Homo sapiens: one gene and its partners. The protein of the gene in region 1 interacts with the protein of each later gene in a pairwise test. Each region holds a gene or a part of one and is shown in the gene's direction. Other genes may lie near its edges.

Region 1 (7,964 bases):
TGCCAATCTAATAACCTACTGCCCTCTTCAAATTCAGCAAAGAGTTGCCACCACCTTCAGGACAAATTTTAAGCTCCTTCTCTGGCCTACAGACCCTGTCTCTTGCCACCCCATCCCCTACCCTCAGCCCCTCATCTCAGCCCCACCCTTTTTGTCTAGGCTTTCCCCAGTCCTAACGCTTGGCAATGCTCCAGACTCCCAACCACTGGCCCACTAGCTCCTCACTTCAAACACCACACATTCAGGGAAGACTACCCTGACCTCCAGCTCCTGTCAATCTCCCCATGCCCCTTATACCCTGTCACTTCTCCCTAGCACTGCACATTCATGCTATTTTGCCCCATTGTAATTGTTTACAATGATGTGTTTAATGTCTATGTCTTCCATCAGATTGACAGTTTCAGGAGGTCAAGGAAACTAGTGGAATGTTTGCTCTTGGACAAAGAGCCCCTGGAGAGCAGGGCTGGAGCTCCTCGTTTGTCCCCCTCCCCAACGGAGGCAAGGGTGATGCTGGATTCCCTCCCCCTCCAAAAGCCTCTGCTAGGAAAAAGTGACTGGTTTTTCCTCCTTACCAAGAACAGAAGCCAATGTACCGACCTCTGGACTAGGAGCCTCCTTCCCCTGAGTACAGCCTCCTTCCCTCCCTCCAGCCACCACTCCACGCAAGGCAAAAGGGAAAGGCTTCCCATTCATAAGAAAATGTTTCTTCCCCCTTTACTTGTTGCCATGGAGACTGTTCTTCATTAACCTGGCCTGCCAGTTACCATTCTGAGTGAGGGAAGATGGTGGAAAGCTCCAAGCAGGGAGGGCCTCTTTATGCATGCATGCATTCATTGTTTCACCCCTGATCTTAACAAAGTTGTGTAATCTAAGGGTAAGAATTCAGGCTTTGAAGTCAGTCACTGGATTTAAGCTCCAGTTCTGACATCCCATACAATCTTGGACCAGATATTTCACCTGTCTGCATCTCACTTTTGTCATCTGTAATGGAAATAAAAAACGTACCTACTTCATAGAATTGCTTGAGGATTAAAAAAGAATAAAGAAAGTAAATGCCCTTAGCAGAGAGTCTGACACATGGTGAGGGCTCAAAAAATATAAGCTATTATTACGGATGCCTGTGACATGACAGGCACTGGGGAGGCTATTGTGATAAGACACTCCGGTTTGAGAGACTTGGCTTGTTTCTAAATGTTTCACCTTCATGGAGTCTTTCCCACACTTTCATCTTAGTTTTCATAGAAACAACAACTTTTTCTTTTCCCCCTTGGATTTCACTGGTAAAAGACATCAGTTAAATTCCTTAATTACAGTAACAAATGCAACTGTTGTAAACAGGTTTGAAAACAAGCATTTCTGACTCTTGATAAACAACTTCACTGTGAACAAAATGGACAGGCAAACTAGAGCAATATTTTGCAAACCACAACTCATACTCCATTAGTGACTCGTAGAATGAATATAGTGGGTTGTAACCATCAAGGTTTTTTTAAATGAAATAAAAAATAAAATCTCAGGTCATATCACACATAGTCAAGTATTGTTTCATGAAACTTTTGTTTCAGTTCACGTGTGTGTGTGCTGGGTCTCTTACAGTGAATGCTGGTTCCTTAAGCGTGGTGTTCCCTGAGCCAAGAAGATCACACACACACACACACACACACACACACACACACACACACACACACACATTCGTTGCCTGGTTAACTCATTCTCTAGGTCTCAGCTTTCAATAACATAAGTTTTGCATAGTTCTTTGATTAACTGATTATTGGTTATTTGATCCTTTCATGTCTATGTCTCCCCACACACTAGATTTGAGCTCCATGACAGTAAGGAATGTATCTGTTTTGTTGACCTTTGTGGCCCATTTTTTAGCACAGTGCTTAATGGATCACAGGCAAGAGGGAATATGGGGGAGGAGGAGGATTGAGGAGACCAGGGTGACTTCAGCTAGGGTGTGTTTATCTAAGATGCCTGCAGCATTCAAGAGGAGATGAGACCCAGGAGGTAGTTGGCTATACATGTCAGATGAGAGGCTCAAGCTGGGGGTGGAGGTGTTAGGGGCTGAGGAAGGCAGTGTGGTGTGGTGGTTAGGCACAGGGACCCTAGCCCTAGACTGATGAAGTTTGAACCCTTGGCCCTGGTGTAGACTAACTGAGTGAAATTTGGGCCCTACCAAATTCTGTATTCTCAGCTTCCTCATCAAGTGTAGGTACAATGAAGATGTCAGTCCGTTTTCTGTTGTTATATCTGAATACCACAGACTGCATAATTTATAAAGAAAAGACACTTAGCTCATGGTCTGGAGGATGGGAAGTTCAAGAGCATAGCACTGGCATCTGGTTGGCATCTGGTAAGGGCCTTCTTGCTGTGTTGTAACATGGCAGAAGGCATCGCATGGTGAGAGGGCAAAAGCGTGCCTGTCAGCTCGGGTCTCTCTTCCCCTTCTTTTAAAGCCACCAGTACCATCATGGGGGCCCCATCTGTTTGATCTTATCTAATGCTAATTACCTCCCAAAGGCCTCACCTCATCAACATACTGGACGTTGGGAATGGTAGGTGCAAGGAAGGAATAGGAGAGATTTGTTAAAAGACACAAAGTTACAGCTAAATAGGAGTAATAAGCTTAGTATTCTATAGCACTGTGGAATGACTAGAGTGAACAATAATATATAGTTTCGAATAACTAGAAGGAAGATATTGACTCTTACCAACACAGAAAAACGATAATGTTTGAGATGATGAATATGCCAATTACCCAGATCTGATCACTCTACATTATATGTATCAAAACATCACTATGTGCCCCATAAATGTTTAATTATTACTTGTCAATTTTAAAAAAAATTTTAAAGAAAATTACAAAGTAGCTCATACTTAGAAAATAATATATGTACAGGTATGTGTATACACACGCATTTATAAAGTGATACGTATAAAATTACTTACATATATGGTTTAAAGAATAATAAAGACTAGGCAAGGTGGCTCACGCTTGTAATCCCAGCACTCTGGGAGGTCAAGGCAGGAGGACTGCTTGAGCCCAGGAGGTTGAGACTGCAGTGAGCTATGATTGTACCACTGCACCTCAGCCTGGACAACAGAGCAAGATCCTGTCTAAAAGAAAAAAAATAAAAAAGAAGAAAGTAAACATCCATGTGGCCACCACCCAGCCTACAAAATGGAACATTATCTTTGAAGTCCTTTGAGCCCTTTCCTCATTACATCCTCTTCTCCTGCCACCCTTCCAAAAACGACGACTTATTTTATTTTGGTGTTTCAATTCCTTTGCTTTCCATAATAGCTTTGTCCACAAATGTATGTGCATATTCCTAAACCATATTGTTGAGCTTTTTTGCGTTTGAATTTATACAGTGTCATACTTTATGTTTGTCTGCATATTGCTTTTTTTTAATCTAACATATTTCTGAGATTGACTTAAGTTACACCATCTGGCTACAATTTGCTTATTTTTCAGTGCTGTATAATATTCTATAATTTGAATAAATAACAATTTATATGTCTTAAAAAATGCCACCGATAGCCAGGAACGGTGGCTCACGTCTGTAATCCCAGCAGTTTGGGAGGCTGAGGCGGGTGGATTGCCTAAGGTCAGGAGTTCGAGACCAGCCTGGCCAACATAGTGAAACCCCATCTCTACTAAAAATACAAAAAATTAGCTAGGCGTGGTGGCAGGCACCTGTAATCCCAGCTACTAGGGAGGCTGAGGCAGGAGAATCGCTTGAACCTGGGAGGCGGAGGTTGCAGTGAGCCGAGATCATGCCATTGCACTCCAGCCTGGGCAACAAGAGTGAAATTCCGTCTCAAAAACAAACAAAAAATGCCACCGATATATGAATTTGGGCATTACATTTCCAACATGTGAAATTTGAGGGACACATTCAAACCATAGCAGAGGATCAAGTAAGTTAATAAACTGCAACACCGGTACCTGTGCATACTAAGTGCCATATACACGTTAATCATTATCATCATCCTTTCCTTGGAAATCACTGAGGCCAAAGGAGTGGGTGAGACCACCCAGAAACGGAGAGGGCTGAAGACAGAGTCTCAAGAAGCCATCATCTCAGGCTCTTGTGCGGAGAAGTAACAAAGAAACCAGCCGGGGGAGTGGGCAGCACTGCTCTGAGGTCACCGAAAGGAGAAAGATGAGCTGGAGAGAGCTTTATAATGGCTGCATTTGTTTGGATGCTAAGGAGAAGAGAGGCAGGCATTCCGCTGGAGAGAGGGAGGGATGCGTGGGGCAAGGCGGGGGCGGGGAGCCGGTGTAGACGGGTGGAGGGCAGACCGGTACTCTGGTCTATCCCCGCTTCCGGGACGCGTTTTCTAGGGAGGGCGGAGCGTGGATGGCGAGTATGGGGAACTCAGAGAGGGACAGTGTCTTGTCACAGGAAGGGAGGGTCAGGAGGGAAATTTGAAAGAAAACGTCTCTGGGAACCCAGGGCTCTGCACTGCCAGTCCCTGGCTCCTTCTGACAAAACCACTGAGCAAGAAGGAAAAGCCAGACCCCTTGGCAGGATGAGAGGGGTCTCTGCCCGCTGCCGGGCCTGGGGCCTGGGGCCTGAGCCAGGAGGCCTAGGTCCCAGGACCTCCGCCTCCACCCCATGGGTCAGAGCAGCCTGAACCCTGTGCGCGCTCCAGGGAGGGGACCCGGTGTGCGATGCGCGGGGGCTGGGCTAGCAAGGGCAGTGGCGCGAGCGGGACGCAGGATACAAAGCCCGGAGCCACGAGGCTGGCGGCGGGGCGGGGGCCGGAGCGATGAATGGGCACGGCCGGGCCAATCCAAGCGCAGCATTTGCAGCCGCGAGAGAGGGAGCCAATCGGATCCCCGGGGCGGTGGCGGTGGCGGGGGCGGGGACGGAACCAATCAGCTGTGAGGACGGGGCCGGGGGCGGAGCCGCGCAGAGTTTCAAATCGGCTGCGGTGGGCGAGGAGCAGCTGTGCTGCGGCTGTGCTCGGCCTTAGTGGTGTCGGGTGAGTGCGGGCTGGGCACAAGTTTCGCCCTTGTTGCCCAGGCTGGAGTGCAATGGCGCGATCTGGACTCAAAACAATTTTTTTGTTCGGAGGGGAGGGCATCAGGTTCTGTTCACAGGGGAGGGCATCAGGTTCGGACACGCACGGCCTGTGGGGTCGTCTGGGTACCACAAGAAGTCGGATCGAAATCGGGGCGTCTGGTGGGAAGGCCGGGGTCTGGGCGGGTGCGCGTTTGGTCTGGGCGAGCTGGTGAAGAAGATGGTGATCGTGTCCTGGGCCCAGCGCTGAAGCTCGGCTACGGCGTGTCTTGACCCTGCCTCCCCTCCTCGCCTGAGCCAGAGAGAGGAAGGAGGTTGGGATGAAAAGACAGCTGTTTTGGAAACTTGAAGGGCGGGACATCAGAAATGCTGCTGACCCGAGGCCCCTCTTCCAGGAAGCATCCTCCTTCCTGCACCCACACTTACCAACTCGCCCGCCCCCGCCACCCCGCTGCATCCCGTCTCTTCCCCTGTGTCCAGGGTCTCTGTGGGGCCTGGGAATGGGTATGGGGAATGCCTTGCTGATCTGCCTTTCGCCCTCCTCCCCAGGGTCTAGTGGACAGAGAAGACTCTTGGCCAGGCAGATGGCTTCTCGGTGGCAGAACATGGGGACCTCCGTGCGCCGGAGATCTCTCCAGCACCAGGAGCAGCTGGAGGACAGCAAGGAGCTGCAGCCTGTGGTCAGCCATCAGGAGACCTCTGTAGGGGCCCTGGGGTCCCTGTGCAGACAGTTCCAAAGGAGGCTGCCCCTGAGAGCCGTCAACCTCAACCTCCGCGCAGGGCCCTCCTGGAAACGCCTGGAAACCCCAGAGCCAGGTCAGCAGGGCCTCCAGGCTGCAGCTCGCTCAGCTAAGAGTGCTTTGGGTGCCGTGTCCCAGGTAATACTGACAACACTAATCATCTTTTTTATGGAGTGTTTCCTTGGTGCCAGGCAGTTCCTGCCCTCAAAGAGCCTCAAGAATATAGACTTCATGAAAACAGGGACGTTGGTTAGTTCACTGCTGTTTCCCCACCACCCCAGATAGTTCCTGGCACATATAGGTGCTCAACAAATAGTTGAATGAGTGAATGAAAGCATGTCTTGGAGGAAACAGATGCTCACAATACCAGGTGATAAGAGCTGTACGTGATAGGAAATTGCAAAGCAAGTGACCAATAGTGAGGCTCACCAAATGCAAGCTTAGTCGGTGAAGGCTTCCCAGAGGAGGTGATTCCAGAGTTCACCCAGGGAAGCAAAGGTCAAGGGGTATTTAGGGTAGGGGAAATAGTGCAAGTCCAGGCCTAGAGCTGAGGGAAAGCAAGGTGTACTGCCCACTCAGCTGTGTATCCCTGAGGAGAGCCAGAATTGTAGTCTGGGTATGAACAGATGACAGAGAGCAAGGTAGAGCAGGGGGAAAGGATATGAAGGAGCTTAGAACTCTCCCAGGAATGATCAGGAGTCCGGAAGATTCTAAACAGTGGAAAGTCTGGTCTAATTAGCATATTAGAATTTGCCCTTTAGCTACATGATGGAGAAGGGAATAGAGGCAGAGATGCTCCTGATGGAGACTAAGGGTTTGGACTTGCAGGGGATAAACTTCAGGAGCTGCCGAGAAGGTCCAGTTAGAGGGGATTTGCTGTCAAATGAGAGCTGCTGTCAGGAAGACGTCCTTATATTGGATGTAAGTGTCTGTGGACCCTTCAAGGGATGCATCTTTAAACCCAGAGCTGGAGGTGTAGACGTGTCACTTAGAAAGGACAGAAGCCATTAGGATGAACAGACCTCCAGGGAGAGGATTGGGGGCTGCAGAGGCTTCTCCTCGGTGTCTCATTGGGAATTCTGAAGATGAAAGAATTCTCCAGAAAGTGGGTGGCTCTTTCTGGACCCTCTGCAGAGAGCTCTCTGAGCCAAATGTTAGTCCTTATTTGGAAGCACTTTTTGATTGTTTTCACCACCCTCAGGGATCAGAGAAATGAAATGAATTTGTCCAAGGTCACATAACTCATCAAATTTAACTTGGGCTTCGCTCCAAACACTGGGCTCTGGCTTGTCAAGGCAAAGACAGTCTAGCTGATGAAGAAGAGCCTTCACGGCTGTCACCCGGCTGGTGTGAAAGGCCCAAGAGTTGGGGCTTGGTCCTATGGGCAACAAGAAGCCACAGAAGAGTTTTGAGCAGTTGAGTGTCACGGTCAGAACTGCCCTTTAGAAGGATCACTATGGACCACTGTGGAGGGTGGATAGAGTGAGTGAGACCCGAGGCAAGAAGACAGGTGCTCTCTTGGTGTACAGGGGGTGCTGGGCGGGGTGGCCTGTTCTTTTGGGGCCCTCTCCTTCAGTCCTGGGGTCACCGTCTGTCTGGAAAGAGAGTTTGGACTTAGACAAACAGGCTCCAGGCACCAGGGGGGTCCTCCTGCGGCTGACTGCTGCTGTCATATCCAAGAGCTCTGAGCTGGGTCCCAGCCGTGGACTCATTCCATGAGGAGTCATTCACATCCTTCACCCTGGAGACTAACAATAGCCTGTATTTACAGGACACTTGCTGAGTGTAGGGGTTGCTTGTATGGTCTGGAGACCAAGGTAGCTCACCCTTGGTTTTTTTTTTTGTTGTTGTTTGTTTGTTTTCGAGACAGGGTCTCACTCTGTCGCCCAGGCTGGAGTGCCATGGTGCGATCTCGGCTCACTGCAACCTCCGCCTCCCGGGTTCAAGCGACTCTCATGCCTCAGCCACCCAAGTAGCTGGGATTACAGGCACCCGCCACCGCGCCTGGCTAATTTTTTTTTGCATTTTTAGTAGAAATGGGGTTACACCATGTTGGCCAGGCTGGTCTCAAAATCCTGACCTCAGGTGATCTGCCTGCCTCGGCCTCCCAAAGTACTGGGATTATAGGCGTGAGCCACCGCGCCCGGCCTAACTTTTGGTTTTGTCTGTGCTAACCTTTCCATTTGCC
Region 2 (4,981 bases), about 22 Mb from region 1:
GAGGCAGTAGAACCAATTTGATGTAAGAGTGACCAATTTGATGTGAGAGTAAGTTAGAAGAGTGAATGATGATCCTTAGATTGCTAGGAAAGAGGGCCCAGCGGGTCAGCTGTGTTAGTGTGTGGAGACTAGGGCTAGTGACACCTCCGGGTCAGCTCTGTGCCCAGGAAGCACTTCAACCTGTGTGGCAGGAGGGATAGCAATAGGAAGCACTTCAATTCCCCACAACTCAGACACCCAGACGGGAGGGCAGAGGACCAAGGCTGAAAGGAGTAGAGAGCCTGAGAGAGAGATGAGACTGAGGGGAGCTAGTGGTGACTCAGGCTAACCAGTCAGCGGGAGAGACCTAGACCGGGGGGCAGAGAAGGCGGGAGAACTGGAGAGAGGACCTAGCCTAGGAGGAGAGGGAGCAGGCTGAGAAGGAAATGCTCTGGGTAGGAGAGACAGACTCCAAGGAAAAATCCAACAAGTAGAGGAGGATTTGGGATTGGAAAAGCTGAGGTCCAGCTGGGAGAGCTGAAGAGGGATAGAACAGAAGAGGTTGAGCCATGGGGTTTCAAGTACGCGGAAAGGAGCAAAGATGTTAGGAAAGGGTCGAAAGGGCACATCCCGGAGTCCCAGGTAGCAGGACGAGGATGGCAGGGGAAGAGCCAAGGAAATGAAGCGGAGATGTTGAGTGGCTCCCGCCTTGCCTGGCCTTACCTGTGCGCAGCCAGTTAGCAGCCGCAGCCACAAGCACAGCTACTTCAGGACTGAGGCCAGCAAGCTTTTCCTATAAATGGCCATATAATAAGTATTTTTGGCTTTTTGGGCCATATGGTCTCTGTCTCAACTACTCAATTCTGCCTTTGTAGTTCAAGAGCAGCCATAGATGATACAGCCATTAATGGGTCTGGCTGTGTTCCAATAAAACTTTATTTACAAAAATAGTTGGCAGGCTAGATTTGACCTGTAGGCCACAATTTGCTAGCCTTCCCTCTCCCTGCTCTAGAATAGTAAATACAGGAGTAGGAACAGACTTTTGATAGGGTGTTCCCTATCAGGGCACAGGGAAAATGGTGAACTCAGCTTCATACATACTAAGTTGACAGATTGACTGTGGAACCTTCTGGTAGATTCTTCACAGGCAGTTAGCCTTTGAGTCTGCAGACTGGGAAAAAGACTGGGAAAAAGTTGAGAGAGGGATGGAAGAGTCATTCATGTGGAAGGGAAGTTTGAAGTAGATGTTTTTGTGATGCTCCCAAGGCAAGGCCACCCTGGGAATGAATTAGAGTAAATTTAGGGCCAAGGACTTAACCCAGAGGATCCAGCAGTTAAGGAAGGACCTGTGAATAGAGAAGAAATAACCAGAAAGGTGTGGGGCCTGCCTTTAAAGGAGAGAGACTCATGTCCTGGAAGCTAAGAAAAGGAAGTTTCTAAAAGAACAATGTGGTCATCAATATCAAATAGGTCAGGTAAAACAAGAGCTGAAATATATGCATTGCATTTGAAAGTAAGGCTGCCATTGGTGAACCAAATGACAAGAATTTAGGTGGAATGACAGGGGAGAAGCCTGAGTGTAGTGGGCTGGGGAGTCAATAGATGGTGAGAGTTATAAACAAGAAGTATAGGCTCTTTTTTTCTTTCTTTTTTCTTTCTTTCCTTTCTTTCTAGAAAAGGCAGTAGCTAAAAGGGGATTTAAGGTAAGAAGAAGGGTTTTGTTTTGTTTTGTTTAGGTTTGTTTTTAAAATACTGCTGTTTTTGTTGGAGAGGCTTAAGAATATAAACATGTTCAGAGAAAGGCACTAATGGAGAAGTTGAAGATAGAGAATTGAGATAATAGGTGGAACAGCATTTTGGAGGAGATGGCTGGGAGTTACCTGGAAGCCCAGGAGTTCACTAGACCTGAACAGCAGCTATTTTTTCTTCTTTGCCCTTAGACTGAACAAGAGACCCTTCTGCTGAGTACAGCCTGTCCTCCCACCCAGGAACACCCTCTGCCTAATGACAGGACCTTCCTGGGAAGCATCTTGACAGCAGTGGCAGATGAAGGTTAAAGGCCCTGGGATTTGGGGGTGGGAAAGTTGTGACGCTGCTCCTGATATCTTCTGCTGTTGAAGATGTCCACCAGCGGGCTTGTCTATCTTACCCTGGCTTCCATTATGGTAGACCCCTGCCTGGATCATCAGAGGGGCCCTCTCCCATTATTGGTTTTTCTCTTAGAGCCAGAATCAACTCCTGTGCCCTTGCTTGGAAGTGACAAGAGTGCTTTCACCCGAGTAGCATCAATGGTTTCCCTTCAGCCCGCAGGTTAGGAGGGGCTCCAGGGATCCTGCCTCATTTCTAGAAAATCTGGTGGTGATGAGTAAAGACGAAAGCAGTGAGAAGTGCTTTGCTCTAAAAACCTCAATTCTACTTGGGCTCATTTTATTTCTGCCTTCTGGGATCTGTAATGTTCCAGACATTCAAATCCTGTGGGTGGGGAACACGGATAAGAGTTGTGGAAATGATGGCTATACACTCCTTCCTTCCAGGGCTGGAAGGCTAGACCTCTATCTGGGACTTTCTCTTTCAGAGACCCCAGGCATGGAGGAGAGCCTGGCAGAAATGAGTATTATGACTACTGAGCTTCAGAGTCTTTGTTCCCTGCTACAAGAGTCTAAAGAAGAAGCCATCAGGACTCTGCAGCGAAAAATGTGAGTGGGATGCAGTTTTGGTGACAGAGGGACAGTGAGACATCCTCTTATGCCAAGGGTCCAACTGATCCCTGAGAGGACAGGAATGTTGCTAAATTCTTCCTTCCTTCAGTTGTGAGCTGCAAGCTAGGCTGCAGGCCCAGGAAGAACAGCATCAGGAAGTCCAGAAGGCAAAAGAAGCAGACATAGAGAAGCTGAACCAGGCCTTGTGCTTGCGCTACAAGGTGAAGGAGGGACCTAGAAGTGGGGCGATGAAGAACTGGGGCAGCTCTACTGGCCCACTGGGAGCCATTATCTCTCCAGGAATCTGGGTGGTGGGGATTTTCCAACCACTGCCCTAGTTTTGCCCTTCCTGGGGTCAGACATTTCACATGTCAGCTATGGGCTGACCTGTCTTCCCAGGCTGACTCAGGAGAGAAGTCAGGAACTCTAGCAGAGCTCTCCCAACACTGAAATGTGCCTTGCCTGGCTTGGCCCTGGGGAAAGAATTGGCGTGATATCAATTGGTCCCATGTGGGCTAAGCATGGGTCAGGCACTCTCTCCTACCTCCTGGCAAGGGCTGTGAAGAGACCAGCTCTTCATGTGTCTTCTCACCTCCCTTTCCCTCACAGAATGAAAAGGAGCTCCAGGAAGTGATACAGCAGCAGAATGAGAAGATCCTAGAACAGATAGACAAGAGTGGCGAGCTCATAGTATGTTCACCATCATGCCCAGGCCTTTGCCTTCTGTGTTACTGGTCAGCCAGGATCCCAAGTATGAGAAATGGTTTGCTTTTGTTCACCACATGTTGTCTATCCTTATGTCCTATTGGACACCTCTCCATTCTCATTCCCAGAGCCTTAGAGAGGAGGTGACCCACCTTACCCGCTCACTTCGGCGTGCGGAGACAGAGACCAAAGTGCTCCAGGAGGCCCTGGCAGGCCAGCTGGACTCCAACTGCCAGCCTATGGCCACCAATTGGATCCAGGAGAAAGTGTGGCTCTCTCAGGAGGTGACTCAGAGTTAACAGAGGAGCTGGACAGCAGGTGGGGACCCCAGGCTGTACCCCTGTTGATCTGGACATATTTCTAGGTGGACAAACTGAGAGTGATGTTCCTGGAGATGAAAAATGAGAAGGAAAAACTCATGATCAAGTTCCAGAGCCATGTAAGAATGTCCATGCCATTCCAGGGCCATTTCCTACCATCGTTAACAAATGCCCCGCCATGTTTCCCCTGTCCTACCAAGTTTGCTCTTTTATGCATAGGACTTATAAAATCTGTTTGCTTTCTAGAGAAATATCCTAGAGGAGAACCTTCGGCGCTCTGACAAGGAGTTAGAAAAACTAGATGACATTGTTCAGCATATTTATAAGGTATAGGCAGGAGGGAGGTGATATCACTAATGAACCTGGTACAAGGCCTGGCCCCAGGAGGTACTAATGAGCACAGATCTGGTTCCCAGCCTGTGCTGAGAGCTGGGCCTGAATCACTATTGCAGGCTTCTCTGTGGTGTCTGTTTTCTCCCCTCTAATTCAGCGGCTGCCTCCTGGGGCTGGGAGCCCTGGGCCTTAAGTCTGTGGTCCTGAGCTGCGTTTTCTGCCTCTCTTCCCAGACCCTGCTCTCTATTCCAGAGGTGGTGAGGGGATGCAAAGAACTACAGGGATTGCTGGAATTTCTGAGCTAAGAAACTGAAAGCCAGAATCTGCTTCACCTCTTTTTACCTGCAATACCCCCTTACCCCAATACCAAGACCAACTGGCATAGAGCCAACTGAGATAAATGCTATTTAAATAAAGTGTATTTAATGAATTTCTCCAAGCTTACGGAATCTTACTTTTTGGGTGAGAGGGGGCGGATGATGAAGTCAGGGAAGAAGCAGCTTGGGCCTCCTGCCTGGGCACCCTCCATAGATCCCTCTCCACCTCCTGCTGCATCCAAAGCCAAGGCTGCCTGCCCTTCCTCCCTTCCTCTGCTTTCACCAAAACTCTGGGCACTGGACTGCTTGTTCCCTGGCTCACCGCCTGGAGGAAACAGAAAGGCTTCATTCTCTTACTTTCCCCAGCCCCCTCGGGGGTATACCCTGGCAAATATGGGGGTGAGGACAGAGAAGCTCAGTTCATTACTTCCTGCCCTGAACTTGGGCACCTTGAAGATGCTTCTGCCCCACCTACTCAACCTGTTGTTACTGTTCTGGTGCCTCCTCTTCACCAGACTAAGCTTAATCCCCAGCATCCAGCAAGTGCCCGGCACGTGGTAAAGGGATTGTGGCAGAAATGAACGCAAGGTCATGGCCAGGCTCCCCGAGGTGGGAGGGCAGTCCCTAA
Region 3 (7,086 bases), on another chromosome or scaffold:
TTAAAAAGGGGAACAGACTATGCAGAAGCTCTTTAGTTTAATTAGATCCCATTTGTCAATTTTGGCTTTTGTCGCCATTGCTTTTAGTGTTTTAGTCATGAAGTCTTTGCCCATGCCTATGTCCTGAATGGTATTACCTAGGTTTTCTTCTAGAGTTTTTATGGTTTTAGGTCTTACATTTAAGTGTTCAATCCATCTTGAGTTAATTTTTGTATAAGGTGTAAGGAGGGGGTCCAGTTTTAGTTTTGTGCATATGGCTAGCTAGTTTTCCTAACACTATTTATTAAACAGGGAATCCTTTCCCCAATGCTTGTTTTTGTCAGGTTTGTCAAACATCAGATGGTTGTAGATGTGTGGCATTATTTCTGAGGCCTCTGTTCTGTTCCATTGGTCTATATACCTGTTTTGGTACCAGTACTATGCTGTTTTGGCTACTGTAGCCTTCTAGTATGGTTTGAAGTCAGGTAGCATGATGCCTCAGTTTTGTTCTTTTTGCTTAGGATTGTGTTGGCTACATGGGCTCTTTTTTGGTTCCATATGAAATTTAAAGTAGTTTTTTCTAATTCCGTGAAGAAAGTTAATGGTAGCTTGATGGGGATAGCATTGAATCTATAAATTACTTTGGGCAATATGACCATTTTCACAATATTGATTCTTCCTATCCATGAGCATGGAATGTTTTTTCATTTGTTTGTGTCCTATTCTCTCTCATAAGTGGGAGGTGAACAATGAGAACACATAGATACGGGGAGGGGAACATCACATACCGGGGCCTGTAGGGGGGTGGGGGGCTGGGGGACTAGGGGAGGGATAGCATTAGGAGAAATACCTAATGTAGTTGATGAGTTGATGAGTGCAGCAAACCATCATGGCATGTGTATACCTATGTAACAAACCTGCATGTTTTGCACATGTATACCAGAGCTTAAAGTGTAATAATAATAATAATATTAATAATAATAAAGGCCGGGCGCGGTGGCTCACATCTGTAATCCCAGCACATTGGGAGGCCGAGGAGGGTGGATTGCCTGAGGTCAGGAATTTGAGACCAGCCTGACCAACATGGTGAAAACTCGTCTCTACTAAAAATACAAAAATTAGCCAGGCGTGGTGGCGAGCACCTGTAATCCCAGCTACTTGGGAGGCTGAGGCAGGAGAATCGCTTGAACCTGGGAGGTGGAAGTGGCAGTGAGCCGAGACCAGGCCATTGCACTCCAGCCTGGGCAACAAGAGCGAAACTCCGTCTCAAGAAAAAAAAAAAAAAAAAAAAAAAGAGAGGAACAGACTTTCAAGAAAAAATGTGCAAGAGGTTTGTTATTCATGCTCTCTTTATGTCCTTCTTTAATACATTTGTTTTATAAACATTTACTCCCCAGCCCTGTGCTAGGTACCTGGGATGCTAAAGTTACTCAGCCTTTGCCTCCCCTCAAAGAGCTCTTATTCTAGTGAGGGAAGATAAAAAGTGCTGGGACAAAATATTGTAGTAGAAAGAGATAGGCTATCCTTGAAAAGTGTGGGTGGTTGGGAAAGGCTTCACAAAGGCAATGACATTTGAGCTGATTTTCAGGGTAAGTTGAGGAAGGAAGAACTTCCCAGGATGAAGGCAGAAAAAGCACAAAAGCTTGGGACCTGCTAAAACATGCTATCTTTGGAAATGTCAAATAGTTTAGGTGTCTGGAGTGTACTGTGTCTGGGAAGGTAGTAAGAGATGAGATTGGTAATGTTTTGTGGTCACCCCCATTTAGATGCAGAGAGGAGGTTGGCCATTGGCTACTTGAAATCATTTTGGGAACATAGTCCGGAGCTTCAAGGACTTTTGTTAAATACGGCCAACTCTGCATGATCCATCTTGTGAATTATCAGAAGTCTTGCTGCACATTACTTCCCCTTGACCACCATAGGAATGTATTCTTAAAATAAAAACTCACTGAGGATCAGTCCAAAGAAATCATAATCATGACAGTAAATGTGCTGGAACAACTCAGAGTGGCTCCTTTTTTTTCCACAAGCTTGTGGGGCAAGATAAGACCAACAGCTGCATCAGGACAAGTGGTGGTCATTTTTGGCTGTACCACATAACCAGTGGGTTGGTTTAAAAAAATTTGTACTGACCTACACATTTGGATATGAGAGCTATATGTTGATGGGATTCACTTATATAACGCACTGTCTATTTCACAGTGAAATAAATATCTGCCTCATTGTCAGTGCAGCTGATGTGAAATATGAGCACAGTGCTTTGATTTTATAATGTTTGATGTTTTCTGATGATAAAGTAATAAAACATTGTGGAAAATAGTTACATACACACACACACACACAATGAATACAAGGAAAAACAAAATCATCTACCACTACTAAGAAGCTAAAAAAATCACTATTAACATTTTGGTGCACTTATTCTGTTTTTTTCTTACAGCTAAAGTTTATTAAGATGAATTTTTAAAAATATAACATTTAATTGAGTCCAACACCTCCATTAAGCATTCCTCTATGACAATACTTTTCTCATTATACTGTCATTACTTGCTTATACTTCTTTAATACTCCTAGACTAGATTGTAAAGGTTGTGAGGATGGGAAAGGTATGTTATTCATACAGTTACCTAATTTTGGCACAGGAACCCAAAACTGAGATTCAAGTTCTGGTACACTGACTTTGCAAGGCCCAAGAATCCAGGTGTTTATCTTTTCATTTCTATCACCAGCACCTGGCCCAGAATCTGGCAGGTGGTGTAAACTCAGTGAATATTGGTTGCTTGAATAAAGGAATGAATGAACAGATGGATGGATGGTTGGATGGATGGATGGATGGATGGATGGATGGATGGATGGATGGATGTGGGTTTTTATTTATTCTTCTTTACCCAAAATTCATTAACTCCCTGTCAAGTGCCAGGTCTGGCTAGGCAACAGAAATATAACTAGCCATATTTGATACGAGGCATCCCTGTGAAGGTACTGACCTCCTCTGATGTGGGATAGGGTTCCTATGAGTACAGAGCCCAATCAGCCCCCTTTGGCTGGTCCTCACGGCTTGTCTTGGAGGGGACCCAAGCCCCTCCAGGCTCTCTTTGGCAAGAGACAGAGCAAAGACCGCTATTCCATGGAGTACTATTCCTGTACTCTTCAAAGTGCTCCAGAAATCCCTAGCCTTGGGCCTGTGTTACCCAGAGCGCTCCTCAACTCCCTCCGCGATTCCAAGTTGTCCCTGCTCAGTGGTGGGCGTGCTGTGGAGAGGGTATCTCAATGGAGAAAGACTATAGAGGAGAGGGGCGCCACTGCTCCCTCAGATGAGAGCAGCCCTTGACAAACCTTCCACCTCCCCAGCCAGCTGGCACAACTGGAAATCTCAGATAAGCCCCAGTTCTGGTCAGAACTGGTTTGGCAGCTCTAGGGGAAATTTTCTGTCTGACTGACCCTTTCCACAGAGGGAGCTGGCAGTTTTGCAGAACAAAACAAACAAACAAACAAACAAAAAGAAAGAAAGCAAAGAAAAGGCGGGGCCAAACTAAGGGCTGGGAAAGGCGCGGGGAGGGTGCGGGGCTGGGGGCGCGGGTAGGGTGGCTACATTTAAAACACTCCAAACTTCTGCTGGCTTCCAAGTTTACACTTTGAGATTCAATCAAGATTGCCCCCACCCCTATCCCGCATTCACTCACTCATACACTTCTCTACTTGGCAATGCAGTTTTGTTGCAATGCAATTTGGCAGCGCGATTGTTGAAGCAATATAATCCTGCACGCAGCGCACCTTTTAATCAATGCATTTTTTTCCTGCAATGCTCTTGTTATTATTTTTATTGCAACTGAATCTCTGAACCCTTTTCCCTCCCCATTCGAATCGCGCTCCGGCTGTGATTGCTCGGGTCTGACTTTGCAAGTGGCAGTGCGCTTCCAAACCCCCCTCATCCGCCCCTCGTCCCCCTTTCCCCCCCTCCCTCCCTTTTCCGCGCCCAGGCGAAAGCAGCCGATTGGCAGAACGGTGCTTTCAGGAACAATAACAGTGGGGGGAGCCTGGGTCCTGGGGAGCCGCCCCCGCCCCCCCCAGCACCGTAGCGAGACTCGCGCCCCCCGCCGGATCCCCACCTCCGCGCCCGCCCCGCGGGCTGAGCTGCCCGACCGGGGCCCGCCCCCGGCGCCCACCATGTACGCCTTTGTGCGGTTCCTGGAGGACAACGTCTGCTACGCGCTGCCCGTGTCGTGCGTGCGCGACTTCAGCCCCCGCTCGCGGCTGGATTTTGACAACCAGAAGGTGTACGCCGTGTACCGGGGCCCGGAGGAATTGGGCGCCGGGCCCGAGAGCCCCCCGCGCGCCCCCCGCGACTGGGGCGCGCTGTTGCTCCACAAGGCCCAGATCCTGGCGCTGGCAGGTGAGCAAGCGGGCGGGGAGGGACGGTGGGACCCGGGCGGGGGCTGGGACCCCGGGAGGGGCCGGGGGCCCGGGCGGAGGGGACCGGGGGGAGCCACTGCTTGCTCCTTCCTGCCTCCTTCTCCCGTCCTCTGGGCATTTCATTTGGGAACGGGGTGTCTCTAAGAGGCCAGGCCAGTTAAAAAGACCGGATGGTCCCCTTTGTCTTCCCCGCTTCCCCGAAGCTCCCGCGCTGTCAGTCCGTCTTCATCTCTTCATCTGTGTCTGTCCTCCTCTTTCTGATTCTTTGTGTTTTCTTCGTTCCTTCACTTTCCATTTTTCTCCCTACCTGTTTGTACCGTCATTTCTCTCTCACCTTCTCTTTACCTCTCTCCCAGTTCCTTCCCTCTGTTCTTTTCTGTCAAGAATTAAGTTTCTCAAGCTGTCTGTCTCTCTCCCTTTAAAGGCTGTTGGTACCTCCTTGGAGTGAGGAGCAAGAAGGATATTGTCAGATCTTCTAGGTGGGAGTCCCTCCTCACAGAGGGAAGCTATGACATCCTTGTCCCATCCGGGCCAACATTGGACAGGATGAGGAGGCCATGAACCTCAGTGCACTGGGCTCCACACCACACTCTCCTGCCCCTCCCTGGCCAGGTGGCAGAGGTAAGGAGGTAGAGGCCCTAAGGCATCCCTCAGCCTCCACACCCCTTTCTGAATCTCCCAGAAGGCTCCCTGAATGAGAGAGTTGAGGGCCAGGAGAGAGTTTCTGGGTCAGAATAACACTGGACCTCTCATCCCTGCCCTGCCAGGGCCCTGAGAGATGGGCTAAGGCAGCTAGTCTCATCTCCATTTCGTAGATGAGGGTACTGAGGTTCAGTTGGTGATAGGGAAAGAAACCAGCCCTTTATCCTCCTATGCTCCAGTTCTTCCTGCCATGCTGAGACACCTTTTCCTTTGTAAAGAGAAGACAGCTGGCCCTCTTTCCCAGCTAGTTCCAGAAAGTTTGAGTCTAGACAAGCAAGGAAGGGGGAAGTATCATCTCCGTTTTGGGGAGCAGCCTTTTTAGCTCCTGCTGGTAAGGAGAATGAACCTTAAAGTGGGCAAATAGTGTTCCTGCCTTCTACCAGAAAGAACACGAAGGGTTAGTGACTGAATGAAGATGTTTTGTAATTTTGAGACCTTCTCTATTTTTTTCAAGTTCCTTTGCTTCCTCACATTTAGCCTAAAAGATGAACCCAACATTCTCTCAACCCATAGAGACTTGCCCAGGGTCTCATGGCAAGTTAGCTCAGTCTCACAACTCATGTTGCCTCTGAAAAATCGGTTTGCAGAAGTTGAAGAGTGGAAGAACTGGAAACTGACCAGCAGCACTTGGACCCTTTTTGACAGGCTCTATCCATACCACCTCCCTGATAAGCCCTGGCACACCGAAGTGTAGGCCCACCCACTGCCAGACACCTAGGGCCAAAGAAACTGAGGGAGGGGAAGCAGATTTTAGAAAAGGGAACCATTCATAGCTGATTAGGTTTTATTTTGTTTGCTTACTTGCCTTTAATTACCTGAGGGAAAGGATTAGGAATTTATTTCCCAAGACGATAGGCTTGAGGAAGTTATAACTAGGTTGTAACCTTAGCTTCCCTTTTGCTAGAAGAAAATGCATGCATGCTTCTTGACGATTGTATTGTACTCCTAGATCTGGAAGGGTCCTAGGAGAGTAGAAGTGATGTGTTAAAGAGAGTCAGTGATAAGTTTCTTAGTGTGTAATGGCTGTTTTCCTCTCTTGGAGATTGTTTCATTCATCTACTCATTCATTCAGCAAACATACATATACACTGTGCTTGACTCTTCAGGCACTGCAGAGAGGCCACTTAGGCAGATGGCAGCTCCCACCAGCTCTGATTTTGAAATCGACACAAGTCCTCAGAAGCAAGATACATGTAGCTGTTGGTTTGAGAACCATGAATTTTGAACCTGTAGACTGTTCATCCTCCAAGTTAGAATGTTGATAAATCTGTATGGTTATTTAAAAAACCCAAGCATCATTTGGAAACTGGCAGAGTAGGTTCAAAGAAGTGTGCCAGTTTGAATTAGTTGAAAAACACTTCCCCTTACCTCTCTTCAGTTTTTTTCTTGGGAGGAGAAAGGGGAAAAAAAGACAACAACTTGAAGTTGGCCAAACCACATTTTGAATTTTGATCTCCTGGGTACCCACTGCCCTGCATAGAGACCTGATCGAAGGGCCAGGGTGAGTTCGGGAATTCATTACCCTGGAATAACTCCTATGTATCTTCAAACCCCTTCCTGACTTAAACTTGGTGGCTCTGAGAATTGCTTACAGTGACTTCAGAGAGCTCATCTGGCATCTCCTATATGTAAATACCACTGTGCTATGGCACCAGGTGTGAGGAGGAATCCCCTCAAGTGGGAAGCAGAGGTGGCTTTATGTTTGTGGATTAGCTATTAATTGATTAATTAATCTCTCTGACACAAATAGAATGGTTTCCAAGGTAGTTTCAGCACAGCTTTCTGGCTTTTGGTGAGAAGTATGTTGCTATACTGAGTGTTGGCCCAAGCCAGCCCAGAGCTGTCTTGAAGTATACTTCTTTTTATACTCAGGAAATGTCAAAGCCGACTGCTGTGGGACTTTACATTTTACTGCCCATAGTAGGTGGTTTATACCACTACTTATCAAATTACAATCCCAGTTCAAGGAAAAACAAAACTCCTTCTTTCCTG
Region 4 (7,029 bases), on another chromosome or scaffold:
CGTTTGTCTTTAAGAGTTCTTCATTTCTGTCCCATTGCCTTCTGAAACTTAACATGTGAAAATTGTACCTGACAAAGGAGGACTGGGCTATCAACAGTTGACTACGCTATTGACACCATGCTCTTGGAGTTTGGTTCTCACACTAACCATTTAACTTGGCTCAAAGTATTCATTCCCAATTCCCCTTAACGTATTCTATTCACAGCCTGTCAGATATAAGCCATTTGTTGGGAGATATTACAAAATATATAAATAGTGCCAGCCTACGAGCACCAGGAAAAGCATTATAGCACTGGCTTCTTAAGTGGAGAATATTACAATCTCACGTGCATAGTGATTTTTTTTTTTTTTTTTTTGAGATAGGGAGATAAGGTGTGTTCCACTCCTGGATACCTAATTGTCAGCTCTTTGGTTTTGGGCTTAGCAATACTTACCAATGTATGCTTGCCACAGAGTTTAATACTAAGTTAATATTGCAAAGCTAAGCCTTTTAGCTTAGAATGGAAGCCATCACCTTCAAAATTCGCACTTTCAAAATCTCACAGTTTTTTGAGTGAATATTTTATAAAAATCACTCATCGGGTATTTACTGAATACCTACTATGTGCAAGGCACTCCTCTGGGAACAAAGATGTTTAAACCCTTCCTCACCAGAAAGACCTATAACCTAGTTGAGAGTATAGTCACAAAAGTAACTACCATTCAGGGAAGAAAGAATTAAGTATGGGAAGTGAACTGCAGCTAAAACATTTTCCAGGTGGGTCTATCTACTTTAAAAAATAACATGGGATCATCTGCACTATTGGGCTGAACAAGATATTTAGGATCCCTGCTCTCAATGAGCTTATCTTGTAAAATGCACAAGAAAAATTGAATTTTTAATAGTATTAATCACGAAAAAGAATACAGATAATCATTGAATTCATTGTGTTTTATTTTGCAGTTTTAGTGTTTAAGAAACTACTTATATTCCCCAAGTTATTCATTCACATTTATCTTTGTGGGAGATACTCTAGGATTCTTATTCACATGCTTCTAACTGCAGTGTTTTGGATGCCATAGTAATTTTCATTTACTCAGCTTATAATTAAGAACATACTATGCATCAAGCCTTCTTTTATGCCCTGAAAATAGAGTAACTAACATGGCTCCTGCCCTTAAAAGAAATTACTGTTTGGTGGAATATAAAGTCAAGAAAGAATTACCATGCTGTGTATGAAGTGCTAATATAGGTTTATAAAAAGTATTGTGGAACAGCAGGATAGAGTACATCTGACTTCTGGAGAGGTCAGAACAGGCAGCTTTAATGAGGTGGGGACATTTGAGGTTAGCCTTCAATAATGAGCCATGGTTCATTAGAAAATGGGAAAGAGAATTCCAGGTAGAAACAAGGACACGTACAAACACAGAGACAAGAAGGACAATGGCAAGAACGTTCTGTCAGTTGTGAGATTTTGGTGGGCCGTGGCAGAAAAAGGAAAAACAGCAGGTAGGACTCAGGTTCTGGTTTGCTGAGAAATGCTAGGCCAAGGCATTGGATTTATTGTCTGATGGAAAGCTGTGAAGGACAGAGAGAAACTTGATCCAGCTTGTGTCTTAGAAACCTTTGAGTGATGAAGTTTGGTTGTAAAACAAAGGGACTGAAGGCAGGAAGAGCAGTTAGGGGGCTTATTGCAATAGTTTAGATAAGGGATGAAAAGAACCTGAAATAGAACCAATGAAAGAAGGATGGAGAAGGAGAGAGAGAGGTTTGAGGTTTGGGAAGTCAATTAAGTATGTAAAGTTTGACTTGCCCCAAAGTGATACCTAGACTAAACTTAAATATAAGATGTAACTCAGAGGAATTATGCCAGAAAAACAAATGTTAATGAAAGGATGATTGTGAGGGAGGGACTTTAGGGGAGGCAGGTTCAGTCATGCAGATAAATCTATGAAAGGGACTTCAGGTTATTTTCAACTGAGAGCTTTGACTTTGGACTAGTAACATGTATATGTTCTGATGTATAGAGTTTATTGCCTGGAAAATGTTGACTGTGAAGGGACATTGCTTATTTGCAGTGTGCAAGAGGGAGCTGTCCATGGACATAGTTGTCCCCTAAATGGGTTTTAAAACTGTAGGTATTTTTTTTCCTTTGCCTCTGGATTAAAAATCTTCATCCACATTAAAAGAATCTTTAGGCCGGGTGCAGTGGCTCATGCCTGTAATCCTAGCACTTTGGGAGGCTGAAGCAGGTGGATCACCTGAGGTCAGGAGTTCAAGACCAGCCTGACCAACATGGTGAAACCCCCATCTCTACTAAAAATACAAAATTAGCCAGGTGTGGTGGCACATGACTGTAATCCCAGCTACTTGGGAGGCCGTGGCAGGAGAATTGCTTGAACCTGGGAGGCAGAGTTGCAGTGAGCCAAGATCGCACCATCACCCTCCAGCCTGGGAAATAAGAGCGAAACTACATCCCCAAAATAATAAATGAATAAATAAATAACCTTTAAAGTTTCATAAGGGAAAATAAACCAATGCCCCTGCCAGAGATTATTATCAACAATCATTTGCTCCGACTGGCAGTCCTTTAAAAAAAAATACGAAGAACTGAAATATGGAAAACTTTAAACCAAGTAGCTGAAAAGATTCACCTTGAGCTCCAAAGGAAAAAGTCATAGAGAAGAGATTTGTTTTGTAGAGCCTGATAGAAATGTTGTACGTGGTGGTAGGAGCTGTGGACATGGTGTATTTGCAGTGATATGGCTGAATAGAAATGACCCTGTAATGACAAAGGACAGGAACCAGGTTGGCATACCCAGTATCATGCACATGCAGTACTTAACAAATGCTACTTGTTTGTTCTATAGTACAAACTGAGCAGTATGTGAAAATAGTCTGGAGACATTGGCTGGAGTGGAGAAGGGCAGCTTGGGAGTAGATGCCCTCTTAAATCTTGCCCAACATGTAAACTGCCATAATTCTTCTCCAGGTTTCTGCACTTTAACTTGAATTTCCTAAGTGTTCTATTTTATATAAGAGTACCATATCCTTTTATAGACAACATATATAACAATCTCAACTTCTGTATAATAGCTATGAGAAGGAGGAAGGTAAAAAGAAAGGAAAGAGGCAGTGATTTATACGGGTCTGGCCAATATCAGGGCATTGGCACGCAGGAACAGCTTTAAACTAAAAGTGATAACTAGTTACCTGCAAACATGAAAAGGGAATTTTCAAAATCGAGAGGAATTATTATAAAGAAGAATAAAAAGAACCAGAACATATTTCTCCTCTGTAATATGAGCTTTCCATTTTAGGGTCGGTGTCAGCTATTTAAGCAGCTGAATTGGAGGTTTAGGTCACATGGGGAGGAAGAAAGTATAACTCTCTATAGCACTCTCAGACATATTTTTAAAGCCTTCAAATGTAAAGCTAAAAAGTAGAACTTCTTTTGCAATGAGTATTAACGTATTTTGGTCATAAGCCTCTTATGTGTATGTCATTTCTCATTACATCCCAGAATTTGTTCTGTTTTCCTAACTAACTAAATAAATAAACACCTTGCTGCCTTGCATCTCTAATGCAGGTCTATGCCAGGGCCAGTCCAGAAGCAGTTTGGACAGAAGTCAGCATGGTTAGAGGACAGATGGGGACTGATGAGGGGAGCAGGAGGCACTGGAAGAAGGCACAAGATTTACCCTGGTCAAAAGTTCCAGTGGCAGTTACAATAGAAATAGGTCATGTGGGCAAATTTGGGGCCGAAAAAAGATTTAAAATTGGGTGTCATGAATTCAACTGGCAAGAGGTACAAAGTTTCCCATAACTTTCCATCTCAGCCTCCTGAGATCTGGTACTAGGTGGTGGGTGTCACCAATAATAACTTGAGAATTGAGAAGTACATATTCTCGCTTCACTCGTTTTCATGCCTATTTTTGGACATCCACCATGAACCAGGGAGTGAGCTGGGCTCCAGACCGGAGTGTGTTCCTAGCATCCCAAGCTGCACTCCTAGAGCATTCTCTTTTGGAACCATTCATTACACATGCCGGTTGGTTTCCATTCATTTCAAGGAGGATGGATTGAGGACCTTCTGTAGAAAGCACCACCCTGGGTAATGAGCATACGGAGATGTTGAAGGCAATGTCACCGACTCTGACGTCACAGTCTAGTGGGTGAAATGGGCATGTAGATCCATGATTTTGATCCAGTTGTAATTGCTGTGGAGAATACACGCGTCAGTAACCGTGGAAGCACCGAGGGATGGCACCTGGCCAGGGAAGTCTTTCTGGAAAACATGGTAACTGGAGTTTAGTTATGCAGCAGAATTTTTACTGGCAGCATGCTAGGCAGAAACATGGTCAAGTGTGATCATTTCTCTATGCTCAGGGGATGAGGGGTAGAGGCTGGAATGCAAAGAGAGGGTGGTAGGAAAAGAAGCATTACAGGGAAGATGATGAGCTTGGGGAGGGGGGCAGCAGTATGCCTTGTAGTGGTACCAGTGATCTACAGTCGCATTGTGAATGAATCCATACTTGTGTGGGCTGCTTTGTAAATACATCTACCAGTTATATTGTATGTGTTGGCTAAGTATGTTTCTAGTTTAAGGAAATCTTTCAAAATGCGAATTGTATGTAAAATATAGCTAATTGTAGATAATCTTTTTTTTTCTAGCTGATAAATTTCTGAATATACTGAACACTTCTATAACCATGATGTTTCCTGTGCAGCACCCCATAAGTAAACATCCATTAAAATAGAAGGGGTTACAAGTAGATAAAGTGTTCTGAACTTCTGGGTGGGGGGGCCACATACCCCTTTGTGATTCTGATGAAAGGTGTGGACTGTGTCCTCAGAAAAATGCATATGTACTTGTCCACCCAATTTTATATGATTTTAGGAAATCATATGGAATATGGGTAGAAACCCTGCTTTAGAATGAACACTAAACCATGAGAGGGGCAGAATAGCAGAATGTTAAAATCATAAGTTCTGGAAGCCAATTGCCAAGTTCAAATTTCAGGTCTAACACTTATTAACTATATAACTAGGAACAAGTTATGAATGGATTTGTACCTCAATTAACTTACCTATAAAGTAGGAATAATAATGTTGTCTCTCAAGGTCTGTGAGGATTAAATTGGCACAAATAAAACCCTTATAACGGTGCTTATAACATAAGAGCTCAGTAAATGTTAAGTACTATTTCTGCTATCACCATTAGCTTCAACTTCTTACTCTAACTCTACAAGCCAGACTGGAAGACAAATATTTTTTTGCTTTTCCTCTATGTTTGCTGGGTGTTCATTCTCACTGCAGTAGAATAATGAATTATCCAATATATAGATAATAGAATTAGAAGGAGGGAGCTTAATACGGAAAGTTCTAAATAGTGTTTTCCCTTATGGGTAGTTTAGCCAGCCTTTATCCTTTCAAATTCACTTACCTTTTCCTGTTCTCATTCCAAACATTAATTGAAAATAGGTCACAGTAGAAATTAGCCGGTTTACTTTGTGGGTATACTAAGATGGAGGTGTCAAATTGGTTTGAAAAAATTTTTAGCTGTCAGAGGGTATGTTTAAAAGCAGGTAATTAGGAAATAAGTGACATTTGAAAAGAAAAAGGGCATTTGCAAAAGGAACCCTTTGGGAACATAAGACCGTCCAAACAGGAGATGAGTTAAGAATCTGTAATTCATGCACCCAGAATTGCAAGAGTTGCTACTTGCTCAAGAGCATGTTTTCCCGTGGGACTATGTATTTTTCCCATTCCACAGTTTCTAGTGAAAACATGTCTTCACATCAAACCCTGAGGATTCAGTTTAGTGTGATTTGTGGATAAATACTTCCGTGGTTTTCTTATGGTAGGGTTTCAGCCAAGTCATACCTTTCTGGTCTGCAGAGACCAAGCAAACATAACAAACATGTGTTAAACCAGAAAGAAGATCAGTTGTTTTAGGAATGTGTAGCAATTTAATAACTGCAACTCAGAATATATTTGAGTACTTCTGGTATGTACCCAGTACACCTAAAGTTGGGTTAAGAAGATAAAAGGTGACTGAGTCACCGGGAGATGCTGATACCTACTCCTAGGAGGTTTTTACCTTTGTATTGCCTGGAAGCAAAGGTAGTCTTTTTGTTAGAGCTTGAGGTTTGACGTCATAAGCACTGACTTAGTTTCTTAAAGAAATTTCAAATTGAGGTGCCTTTGGCTATTTTATACATAATTATTGGATTTTTTAGAACACTAGAAAGCAGTGGAAGGCAGTGGCAGGGAAGGGGTCAGAATATGGATTCAGATCCAAGACGATGAGAATAACGTGGGCGAAACATATAATAGTTCCGAATACCTTTCTTCACAGTGTGTACTCTGCAGTTGCTACTGTATTTATCATCTGTTCTCTGTCAGATTTAACCATTTTTGTGTTCTGCTTTTTACTTCTAAAAATATGGCCACCTCCAGAGTCGTCTCTACTGAACAGGAATGCTGATAATTACACCGTTTTGCAAACACTCTAAGCTCACTAATGCCCGGAATTAGAGGAAGTGAATATACTGAGCATTGGTCATCTCAATTTTTTAAGTTCAGTTTTTTAACTTAAAAAAACTGGAGCCAAGTTTAAGTTGGAGCCAAGTTGGGAAGCTCAAGAAGAAAAGTAGCTTTTGTCAAAAGGAAATCACAAAGTAGGGAATAATAACTGTGTCAAGGCCAGAGTGATCCATACACCAGTATGACAGTCTCAAAATGAGGATGGTGGCCCTCCAAAGTGGGCTCAATTATGTTCTCTGGCCCATCCTCTCTCTTCCAAAGCGAGCCTGGATTTCACAGAATCTCAGCTCTAGGGATGTATCATATGTATTTACTTGAGTGAGAGAGAGGGGGCATTCCTACACTCCTTCCCTCTCCCCTTTCCATGCAGCACATACCCCACAAGTGAGGAGGTGAATCTGACTCCTGTTCATGCAGCATTTAGTTTCCCTTCCAAGCCTTTGAGGTGTTTGAAGGGCTGTAATTTTGAGTACGATAAGAACGGTTAGTCTATACTATTT

What was found.
Region 2: the proteins of PIMREG (region 1) and SPAG5 interact in binary tests that used the Homo sapiens proteins (3 or more experiments, as listed by UniProt).
Region 3: the proteins of PIMREG (region 1) and BEND5 interact in binary tests that used the Homo sapiens proteins (3 or more experiments, as listed by UniProt).
Region 4: the proteins of PIMREG (region 1) and MAL2 interact in binary tests that used the Homo sapiens proteins (3 or more experiments, as listed by UniProt).

Annotation. Positions count from the first base shown.
Region 1 is NC_000017.11:6,439,491-6,447,454, forward strand, and holds the start of PIMREG (protein PIMREG), read left to right. Parts: upstream 1-4,964; 5' UTR 4,965-4,998; intron 4,999-5,585; 5' UTR 5,586-5,620; coding exon 5,621-5,914; intron 5,915-5,920; exon of another isoform or gene 5,921-6,541; coding exon of another isoform or gene 6,542-6,697; intron 6,698-7,964. UniProt on the Homo sapiens protein: During mitosis, may play a role in the control of metaphase-to-anaphase transition.
Region 2 is NC_000017.11:28,577,059-28,582,039, reverse strand, and holds the end of SPAG5 (sperm-associated antigen 5), read left to right. Parts: intron 1-1,919; coding exon 1,920-2,031; intron 2,032-2,202; coding exon 2,203-2,289; intron 2,290-2,554; coding exon 2,555-2,675; intron 2,676-2,787; coding exon 2,788-2,899; intron 2,900-3,287; coding exon 3,288-3,368; intron 3,369-3,511; coding exon 3,512-3,667; intron 3,668-3,747; coding exon 3,748-3,822; intron 3,823-3,949; coding exon 3,950-4,030; intron 4,031-4,269; coding exon 4,270-4,341; 3' UTR 4,342-4,466; downstream 4,467-4,981. UniProt on the Homo sapiens protein: Essential component of the mitotic spindle required for normal chromosome segregation and progression into anaphase. Required for chromosome alignment, normal timing of sister chromatid segregation, and maintenance of spindle pole architecture.
Region 3 is NC_000001.11:48,773,892-48,780,977, reverse strand, and holds the start of BEND5 (BEN domain-containing protein 5), read left to right. Parts: upstream 1-4,086; 5' UTR 4,087-4,146; coding exon 4,147-4,372; intron 4,373-4,816; exon of another isoform or gene 4,817-4,949; coding exon of another isoform or gene 4,950-5,013; intron 5,014-5,047; exon of another isoform or gene 5,048-7,086. UniProt on the Homo sapiens protein: Acts as a transcriptional repressor.
Region 4 is NC_000008.11:119,211,360-119,218,388, forward strand, and holds part of MAL2 (protein MAL2), read left to right. Parts: intron 1-3,263; exon of another isoform or gene 3,264-4,268; intron 4,269-7,029. UniProt on the Homo sapiens protein: Member of the machinery of polarized transport. Required for the indirect transcytotic route at the step of the egress of the transcytosing cargo from perinuclear endosomes in order for it to travel to the apical surface via a raft-dependent pathway.